Linked DNA regions of Homo sapiens: region 1 is linked to region 2. A link means that fine-mapping ties the variant in region 2 to the expression of a gene that starts in the linked region. Tissue or cell type: whole blood. Region 2 holds a variant in brackets; the other region holds the start of a gene. All regions are shown on one strand. Distances are between the middles of the regions.

What was found. PIP is the estimated chance that this variant, and not a neighbour inherited with it, causes the effect.
Region 1: AMPH starts here. The variant in region 2 is fine-mapped to the expression of AMPH in whole blood (TOPMed, PIP above 0.99).

What each region holds. Positions count from the first base shown.
Region 1 is chr7:38,629,231-38,634,598 of GRCh38, forward strand. AMPH (amphiphysin) reads right to left here and starts at 2,143. Exons shown (of 21, transcript NM_001635.4): 1 at 2,053-2,143. The coding sequence starts at 2,121.
Region 2 is chr7:38,656,451-38,661,825 of GRCh38, forward strand. It overlaps the pseudogene KRT8P20. Among named protein-coding and RNA genes, the nearest start is that of AMPH, 28 kb to the left of the region's middle. The variant G/A (reference allele first, on the strand shown) is at 2,667.

The sequences.
Region 1 (5,368 bases), 27 kb before region 2:
TCTCTTTGTGCCAAGCATATCCTGATGCTACACAGACTCAGAAAGGGGGGCAGAACTCACCCTGGGGAAGAGCCTATACTCTCAGCCTCTTAGTGTTTGAACCTCTATACTAGGTGCGGCAGGCACTTTTCATCAGCACCTTTCCCCAGTGAAGAAAATAGGACGCTTGAAACCCCCAAGAGGGTCTCTCACCCCCGCTCCCATAGAAGACTGACCACCATCCACAACTGCAGTCATAAAGTACACTTGACCTTGATCGTGAAAAAGTGAGTTTTGACAATTCACAGGACTTGAATGCTCCGTAAGAGATTAGGTTTTCTTTTCATTTATTTTGAGCATATTAACAGCTGGTGACCTAGATTAAGAAATAATTCAATATGTGAAAAGGCAGACCATATCACTAAATTCCTTCACAGATGGAAAGTGGATTCAGTGAAAAGCCTCAGACCGAAGAGTCAAGTAATTACTTGGAAGGCAGGAGGAGGAGTACCTACAAGTGGGTAAAATGAAGTGTGGAAAAAGGATGACAAAACCTGGCCCAGATCCCAAGCCAGCAGATCCCTGGCTACTTTCTGCACAAGTAACCCGGGCCTGGAAGGCAGCAGGCAGCCTTGCTAATTCAGCTGCGGAGGGAGAGGCAGGAGGAGGATCACTTTAGTTCAGGATGAGCTTGGGTAGATATTAAAAGAAATACAATCCTCTTACTGCATGGAGAGTGTGCATGTGTGGAGGGAGGGACTAGAGGCAGCCACCAAGCCTCTGGGCCTGGGGACAAAAGGGATCAGTGCCCCCTCTGCTCAGCAACTCATGGTCAGCCGGAACTGGGAGGCAGCCTGAGATTGAGATTGGGTCTGAAGAGGGAAATTCATTGCCATCCTGAGCAACATGGCAAATCTGACTTCCAGTAAAACAGGAAAACGCTAAACACCCCATATCCTAGGGACGGAAAATACTGCCACGTGAAAGAGAACACAGTTCAAGTGATACCAATCATGGGGCTCATTAGCCGGTGTTGATTTTCAAGTACAATGCTCAAGCTACAATATAAAGGAAATGTCCTTTGCTCAGGACACAAATGAAGACCTCAGGGCCGTCATATACAGCAGTCACCAGGGAAGCCAGGCAAGCCTGGTGCCTGGTACAACTCCCCTCCACCTGCTTTGGGCTGTGCTTGCTACGGACCTGGGTTTCATTCATGCACGTCTCTGGGGAAAAAAAATAAATTACTGTGCGCAATTTACTGAGGGACTTGCAAAACAACAGAGAACCCAATTTGTGCAATCTGGATTTTTTAAAATGCAATAAAAGGTCCTTCTTTGTGCAGAAATATGCAGAAAGGAACTATTAGGTTCAGGTCATATTTATTTTTGACCTTCTAAAGAAGGACACTGGAGTCAAAAGGGACACAAACATATAGACCAAAATTAAAAGTGTGTATATCTAGATCTCTGTTTTGAACTCCAGAACTCACCAGACAGCACTGTGTGATCACGATCCTACCCTATTGGTCCTGGGAGATTTTTGGTGGCTTCTCTGTTAAATCGTTCGTGTCTGCTGCACTTAAGTAGCCACAAAATCCCCCGCAAGAAGGAAGGCTGCTGCAATCTCCCGCCCCGATCTGCGGGCCGCGTCCCCGCGAGCTGCCTGCGGGCGCGCTGGGAGCCGGCCCGGGGAGATGCGAGCGCAGGGAGATGCGCTCTGCTCCGGGCGCAGCGGGCAAGCTGCCGCACCTCCTACTTCTGTTGCCTGGCTTGGGGCCAGGAGAGCGGCAACCCGGGGCCGGCTCCGGAGCTGGACATATCCGGCGTCTCCGGGGCCAGGGTCTGCGGGTCCCCGGCGCTGCGTCCTCCCGACCCGCTCCCCGCGGCGCCCGGGTCGCGCCTTGCGGCAGTCACCGAGCTGAGGGCAGGGCGTCCCAGCGTCCCTGGCCCCGGCCCCGCTCCGCAGCGCGCCGCACCCCGAGGCTCGGGCCCCGCACAGCTGCAGCCGGTGCCCTCCGGCCAAGCCCCCGCCTGGCGTCCCCGGCCCCAGCCCCGGCCGCCCGCCGCTGACCTTTTCCTGCGCGCGGTTGAGTCGCTTCTGGACGTTCTTGGCGAAGATGCCCGTCTTGATGTCGGCCATGGCTGCGGGTCCGGGGAGCTGCGAAGAGCAGAGCGCGCAGCGGGGCTGGCGGCGGCGCGGAGGAGCGGGAGGAGGAGCGGGAGGAGGAGGAGAGGGCCGAGCAAGGGAGGAGCGGGAGAAGCGGCGGGGAGCCGCGGAGCGCGGAGGGGTGAGGGCGGGGCGCGGCGGCGGGACCAGCTTAAAGCGACAGAGCGGGGGCGGGATGCGTCGGGACTGGCTGTGACATGGGGAGAAGGGGCGGGGGAAGAAAGAGAAAGAGGCCAAGAAAAAGAGAGGGAAAAGCCAGAAGCCAGATTGTCTCCTCGATGATAGAAGAGTTTCGAGAGGAGAAAGGGAACCAAGCCTAGCAGAAGTCCCTGGGCCCAGGGGCAGCTCGGGGGTTCTTTTAATGCAGTTTGTATTTGGGGAGAGTGAGGGGACCTGATTCTTTCCAGCAAAAAAAGAAATAGGGGAGACAAAAAAGGGAAGAACCCTAGGGATGTGGAAGCCAGCTGGATTGGAACTGCTCTGAAGTGGAGCTGATGGGGCTGGTCCCTTGCTGCTCCCAAAAGTTTCCAGCTAACAGAGGCCCCTCCATACACCCTGGGTGTTGCAGAAGAAGGTATGGAGGTCGCCCTACCCTCAGGAGGCTCACAGCCCAGTGAGGGGCCCTGGCTGGGAAACCAACGAAGTCAGAGCTGCAGGAGAGAGGCGTGTGGAGAGCAAAGCGGGGAGAGACCATCGCTGACACTTGTTTAAACTTTAAAACAAGAGTTAGCAGGGCGGGGAGGTCCGCGTTGAGAAAGGTCAGCTTCCGGAAGACAGGCGATGTGTTTTGGTCATCTCCAAAATTCCTGTGCTGGGCAGAAACCTTAGAATAGACTACTCTTCAAGAAATGGTGCATGGAACAGTCAAGTCCCTTATAGCTTCGCATCAACCATGGAAGACCCAGTCCCCCCTAACTTGTTGCTTCCTTGGAAACCTTTTGGCAACCTTAACAGGGACTCACCATCCCTATTATTCTTATTAATGCTTGGGAGAAGTACGAATAATAGGGATAAACCTGCCCTACACCTAGAGCTCTTGTTGGCTCTGACCAGTGGTCAAACTATTCATATTCCATTCTCACTGAGAGTGTGAGGAGAAGAAGTCAGGTGGTGCCCTGCAAACAGAGGTCAGAAGTGGTCACTCACAGTGAATCCTATGAGTCCAGGTGAGCATCCTACTGTACCTCTGGGGGAAACTGTTACATTGGTAGACCTCAGCGAGCTGCCACCTGGTGTTCACTCTTGTGTCACCCTGTAGTCCCCTCACCTTGATTCTAGAATGATGCTATGGCCAGCTTTAATCAATAAGATGTGGTGAAAGTGACGCCATGGTAATTCCAGTCCCCCCCCCACCCACCCAACCTAGAAACCAGGCAAGTTTTGCCCTCTGGGGATTCCTGTGACACCATATAGGAAATTCAGCTAATTCAGCTACCCTGCTGCAAAAATAAAATAAAATAAAATAACAAGGAGAGGCCATACAGAAAGGGAGAGGCCCTGAGATTACGCAGAGAGAGAGAGAGAGAGAGAGAGCAGCCAAGATGTCCCAGCTGAGCCCATTCTCCAATCAGTTCACTGGCTGGCTGCAGCCACACAAGCAACCATCAGCAAGACCAGCAGAAGAACCACTCAGCTAATCCCAGCCAGAGTGCAGAATGTGAGCAAACAAAACAGTTTTTATGAGTCGATCACTTTTATAATGCTTTATTATAAAACAGTAGGTACCTGGAACACCTGGTCTATGTGCTTGGCTCTTATTTCCCTAGGATAAATATCTGCCCCAGTTTCCTTAGGAATTAAGGAATTTCCAGGACACAGGACTCTTAGTGCTAACAGTGGGAAAGTTCTGAGCAAATTTGGATGAGTCCTACTTATAACACTCCAAGTAAACAGAGGTTTATTTCAGAGAGATAAAAAAAAATCCACCACTTGGTCAACATTCAATGAAAAAGGCTATGCTCAGAAACCAGGAATTTGAGTCACCTCCCTCAAACAGGGGCCTTTGGGGCTGTAATGGTTATACTGAGTGTCAACTTGATTGAATTGAAGGATACAAAGTATTGATCCTGGGTATGTCTATGAGGGTGTTGCCGAAGGAGATTAACATTTGAGTCAGTGGGCTTAGAAAGGCAGACCCACCCTTAATCTGGGTGGGCACCATCTAATCAGCTGCCAGCGTGCCTAGAATATAAGCAGGCAGAAAAATGTGAAAAGAGAGACTGGCCTGGCCTCCCAGCCTACATTTTTCTCCCGTGCTAGATGCTTCCTGCCCTCGAACATCAGACTTGAATTTCTTGTTTTGGAGTTTTGGAACTCGGACTGGCTCTCCTTGCTTCTCAGCCTGCAGACAGCCTATCGTGGGACCTTGTAATCGTGTGAGTTAATACTTAAAAACACACATATATATATGTGTTCCATCAGTTCTGTCCTTCTAGAGAACCCTGACTGATACAGGGTTCAGAATCTCAGCTCTACCTTGGGATCTTGACTATGAGGATACAAGTCTCAGAATGCTGGAATACACCAGAAGTGTTCTAGAGAATATCAATCCATAGTCACTCTTGCACTGTGAGCCCCAGAGCCACCTACACTGGTTTTAGATACAGCTCCCTCTGCAGACATCACTGCCCTCCCTCTGTCAGGCAAGGGACAGGAGTTCCGAGTACCAGATTTACTTTTTTCTGCTTCCTTAGAGCTCAAGCCCTCAGTCACCAAAGTACCAGCTTTTGTCTGTCCCGTAATTATTCCCACCCCACCCAACCACATTTTTGGAACTCAATAAATATATTTTAAAATAAAATTGCAAATTATTAATTTTTCTTATTATTCAGATGCCCAAATCTAGTTCTGTAACATAGGTGGAAAAGGGAGGCTTGTCATTTCTTAATAATTCTATTTGGAATACATGCTGAGCATATTAAAAAGTTGTTACATGCAAACTGTTATCAAAACATTTCACTCCAACAGAAAGGTAAATCGGTGTCCACTTTCAGGTTGCCAGGTGGCTCATTCTAGCCATTCTGGAATATTGACTAAGCACTTTAGCTGGTATTTAGTAGCTGTTCTGTAAATATTTGTTGGAAAATGCATGTATGCATGAGAATAGCTCATGAGCATCCATCATGCAAGATACGATGATGCCTGGCATGCTAGAGTGGGGACGTACCCACTCCTTAAGAACCCTGAGCTAGGATTCATGAATTCTTCCCCAATGTATCTT
Region 2 (5,375 bases):
CCTCACAAGCCCCGGCCTCAGCTACGGCCTGGGCTCCAGCTTTGGCTCTGGCGCGGGCTCCAGCTCCTTCAGCCACACCAGCTCCACCAGGGCCGTGGCTGTGAAGATCAAGACCCGCGATGGGAAGCTGGCGTCCGAGTCCTCTGACATTCTGCCCAAGTGAACAGCTGCGACAGCCCCTCCCAGCCTGCCCCTCCTGTGGCTGCCCCAGAGCCGGGGAGGGAGGCCGCTGTGCAGGGGAGCAAAGGGAACAGGAGACCCACCTGAGGCTCACCCCTAGCTCTCAGCCCACCCACGGGGGAGTTTACTGCCTGGGGACACCCTTTGCCCATGCCTCCAGCTACAAAACAATTCAACTGCTTTTTTTTTTTTTTTTTTTTGTACAAAATAAAACCTCAGCTAGCTCTTTCAAAAAAAAAAAATCAGTCCCACAAGGTCCCATCAGTCTCATTCTGCAGGCCAATGAGGATTTTCTTCATATTTTCAATGTGTTGAGAAGAATCTGCAGAATGTTAGGACATATATAGACAGATGAAAATACTCACACAAGGAGTAAGAAAACCTTCAGAGGAGGCAAATTTGCAAAGCAAGAACTGTGCCCCTCCCCAGTTCTAAGTCAACAACCACCCCATTAAGAGTCTATCTTAATTCTGGGGCTGTCAGCAGGTTTCCTTTCGCCTGCTCTTATTTGTTCATTTTATGGAACACAGTAGTCTGCCTTTTTTTTCATGTCTAAACTCATTTCCTGTTGAGAAAGTTCATAACCATGGCACAACAGTAATCATCTTGCATAAGTTACTCAGCTCCTTTCTGCTCTTGTTTCCTCATCTCCAAAATAAGAATAAAAATAATACTTCTTTTATAAGGTTGTGTTGAGGATCAAAATAGCTAATATATGTTAAACCCTTGGAACAGTTCCCGGACTATAATCACTGCTATATAAATGTTTGCCATCATCCTTCTTGGATGGTTTCAGTGCCCCTCGGTTACCTTTGCCATGACTCTTATTTATTTATTTATTTATTTTTTGAGATGGAGTCTTGCTCTGTTGCCAGGCTGGAGTGCAGTGGCGGGATCTCGGCTCACTGCAACCTCCGCCTCCTGGGTTCAAGCAATTCCCCTGCCTCAGCCTCCCGAGTAGCTGGGACTACAGGCATGTGCCACCACATCCAGCTAATTTTTTGTATTTTAGTAGAGATGGGGTTTCACCATGTTGGCCAGGATGGTCTCAATCTCCTGACCTCATGATCTGCCCACCTTCTGCTCCCAAAGTACTGGAATTACAGGCGTGAGACAGTGCGCCCAGCCCCCAGGACTCTTATTTTCTAAATCCTATTAGAACATCTTCTTTTTCTTTTTTTTAAAGTCAGGATCTCACTCTGTCATCCAGGCTGGAGGGTGGTAGCACAATCATAGCTCACTGTCACCTGCAACTCCTGGGCTCTAGTGATCCTCCCACCTCAGCCCCACTGAGTAGCTGAGACTACAGGTGCATGCCACTACATGGGGCTAATGTATTAATTTTTTTTGTAGAGATGGAATCTTGCTATGTTGCCCAGGCTGGTCTTGAACTCCTGGCTTCAAGAGATCATCCCATATCAGCCTCCCAAAGTGTTGGGATTTCAGGTGTGAGCCACTGCACCAGCCCTATTAGAACAAATTTCTAAATTATATGGGAATGTACAAAAACAAAAGATAAATCTGCCTGTAGAACCTTAAAACAGTTTCATGGTCCTCATAAGGTTCTTCATATTCAGGAGAGCGGGCATTGCAACATGTAAAGCCTATCTCGAAGAAAGAGACTTTTGCCCAAAGTCTATATAGACTAAGCCTCTGTCTACATTATGTCTTCTTCTCAAATCACCTCCTTGACTTCATATTACCATAATAATCCACATCCCATTATAAACTTTTAGCTTTTAGCCAGATAGGCTGTTTTGCAAAAGAGGAAGGCAATGGGGGGCTTTTGATGTTACTTTTCAGGAGTAGTTTTCCTTACCTTCTTCCTGTTGGGCCCCTGGGATCTTATCTGCCTTTAAGTGTTATAATAATTCCAGGTGCATTAGAGTATCCAATATGCCACTGAAATCTACCTCTCCCCTGATATTAACCATACACCAAATAAAAGCAGCACATAATAAAATCATCCACATCCCAAAATAGAAAAAGCACCCAAATTGTTTAAATTTTACATAGGGAGTAAGTTGTATCACACTCTATGCTAACCATGTTTATAACCATTTATGCTTGCACATATGTAATTTAAACAGCTATTATTGAGCATCTGCTCCATGTATGTCAGGCACTAGACTGGGCACTGGCAACATACTGGAACAATAACAGGGGTGGTTCTGTTGGGGAGGCAGCTAAGACAGACCAAACAGTGGGAGTCCCAGAGGTTTACTCAATAATCATGCTAATTAATACAAGCAAACCTTCCAACTGAGTTCAGTGTTCCAGGTAAAAAGGAATGTAATACAAAAAGCTGACCTGGGCTTGTGGGTCATGGAAAATTTCTCTGCGGAAGAGACATATGACAAATAAAGAATTGTGAAGTTACCCAAGGTAAGAGAAGAAAGAACATATCATGAAGCTAGATCAGGAAGCACAAAGGCCCTATGGTGGGAAAGAAGATGGCCAGTAAAAGATGCGTGAGTCATTCATGA[G/A]ACAGGAACCACTGGCAGAAGACAGGATTTGTGGGGGAAGAGCCTCAGTTCAGTCTGGGACATGAGGTGTCTGAAATACCTTTGAGACATATCAAGGGAAAATATGAAATAGGTGGTTGGATATATACATCTGGAACTCAAAGGAAATGTCTGAGCCAAAGACATAACTAGATATAAATAGCTTACAGATAGCAGTTAAAATTAATGATCTTGGATACAGTTGCCTGGAAAGAAAGCATATAATGAAAAAAGACCACCTTGACAGACTTCACTTTTAATGGCTGAGTAGCAGATAAGCCCACCAACTAGGTTAAGAAGGAGCATCAGAGAGGTAGAAAGGACACCAGGAGAATGTGGTAGCACCCAAGGCAAGGGGAGGAAGAGCTGCAAGAAGGTGGAAGTTGTTAATAGTATTTAAGAACATTGCTGAATCATGTAGTAAAATAAGGTCTGAACATCATTGGATGTATTTGAGGACAGGGAGATCACTGTTGACTTTATCAGAGCTGGTTCAGGGCAGTGATTGTGGGAATGGGAGAGTGATGGGCCATGACATTCAGCCTTAAATAGGTTGAGGAAAGATTGGGAGTTAAGAAAGTGGAGACAAAAATTTTAGGCATCTCTTTCAAGAAATCTGGTTGTGAAGGAGAAAAGAGATATGCAGTGGTGGGATAAAAAGTGATTTGAGTAGCTGTTTGCCTGGATTGGCAACCTGAGCCGCCCCACCCTTCCCGTGCAGCGATCTGGGTGCAGAGGGGCCCTCTCCACTCCATGCCAGACAGATCTCCAGGCATTCAGACACCTGCTCACTGGAACAGCAGTCTGAGTCACCCCAATCTTCCTGTGCGGAGATCCTGGTGCAGGAGGCCCTCCCCACTCTACACCCAGGCAGAATCTCCATGCGTCTGAAGCACCTACCCTCCTGGGTTAGAAGTTTAGGCTGACCCCAATCTCCAGGCAGAGAACTCAGGGATGAGGAGGTCTTGCAGCTCCATGCCGAGGCACACCTCTGGATGCGAGGTGGCCATCCACTGGATTCTCCCTCAGTGCTGGTACTTGTGCCTGCCATCAGGGGACCTACAGGTGGACCTGCCTGGTCTGGCCCTGCCCATCTTGCTTCCTCCCCTCCACTGGGGCTGAAGAGGGAGCTCAGACCACCGTGCACTCCATGAATCAACCCATTTCCTGAGGCAAGCGAGAGCTTCTTCCAGTAAAAAAAAAAAAAATGCTATGTGGATGGGATCACATATATTCCCATCCACATAGCATTTTTTTTGAGACAGGTTTTCACTCTGTCACCCTGAGTGTAGTGGTGTGATCATGGCTTACTGCAGCCTTGACCTCCCGGGCTCAAGCAATCATCCCACCTCACTGTCCCAAGTAGCTGGGACCCACAGGCACATGCCACCATGACCAGCAATTTTTTTCATTTTTTGTAGAGACAGGGTCTCGCTATGTTGCCCAGGCTGTTCTTGAACTCCTGGACTGAAGGGATCCTACTTCCTCTGGCTCCCAAAATGCTGAGATTACAGATACGAGCCACCATGCCGGGCCACACAGCCAGCTCTTACCCATAAGCGCCATCTATTGGCTTGTAGGTCAAATTGCACAGCCCAATATAAAACCTGGTGACAGAAGAGCATAGGGCTACGCAAGCAAAGCCAAAAGACCCTACCCAGCATTCTCTACAGTCACACACCCTGGGGTGGGAAGGAAGGAAAGGGAAAGAAGAAAAAAACAATAATATTATTGGAAAAAAGGAAAGAAAAAGAAAAAATTCTACCTGCATGAAAATAGTTACTAAAATTAGAAGGGCAAGCATCTCTAGATGAAAAGGAACTAGTGCAAGAAACCTGGCAAAATCTGAATGTAGTGACAGTACCAAAGGATCACACTAGCTCCCCAGCAATAGTCCCTAACTAAAATGGAAACTCAGAAATGATAGCTAGATAGATAAATAATTCAAGGCATGGATTGCAAGTAAGCAGCAATGAGATCCAAGACAAGGTTGAAAGTCAACAAAAAGACATTTCTAAAGCAATCCAGGAAAGGAAGGAAGAGGTAAACATCTTCAAAAGAAATCAACCAGAACTTCTGGAATTGAAAAACTCACCTAAGGAATTTCAAACTACAATTGAAATCTTTATGAACAGACTGCACCAAGCAGAAGAAAGAATTTCAAAGCTTGAAGACTGATTTTTTGAACTACCCAGTTAGATAAAAATAAAGAGAAGAGAATTTTTTAAAATGAACACAGTTTTCAAGAAATATTGGATTATGTGAAGTGACCAAAATTATGAATTACTGGACATTAACAATAGATACAGAAGAGAAGAAAACAACCATGAAAACATTTGAGGCAATAATTCAAGAAAAGTTCCTAATCTTGCTAGAGAGATAGACATCCAGATACAAGAAATCTAGAGAACACATGTGAGATAGTGTACAAACTAAACATCATCAATGCATATAGTCACCAGACTGCCCAAAGTCAATGCTAAAGAAAAAAATCTTAAAGGCAGCAAAAGAAAAAGGTCAGATCACATACAAAAAGAACCCCATCAGGCTAACAGTAGACTTCTCAGAAGAAACCTTACAAGCCAGGAGAGATTGGAGGCCTATTTTCAGTATTCTTAAAGAAAAGAAATTCCAACCAAGAATTTCATATCCTGCCAAACTAAGCTCTATAAGCAAAGGAGAAATAAAATA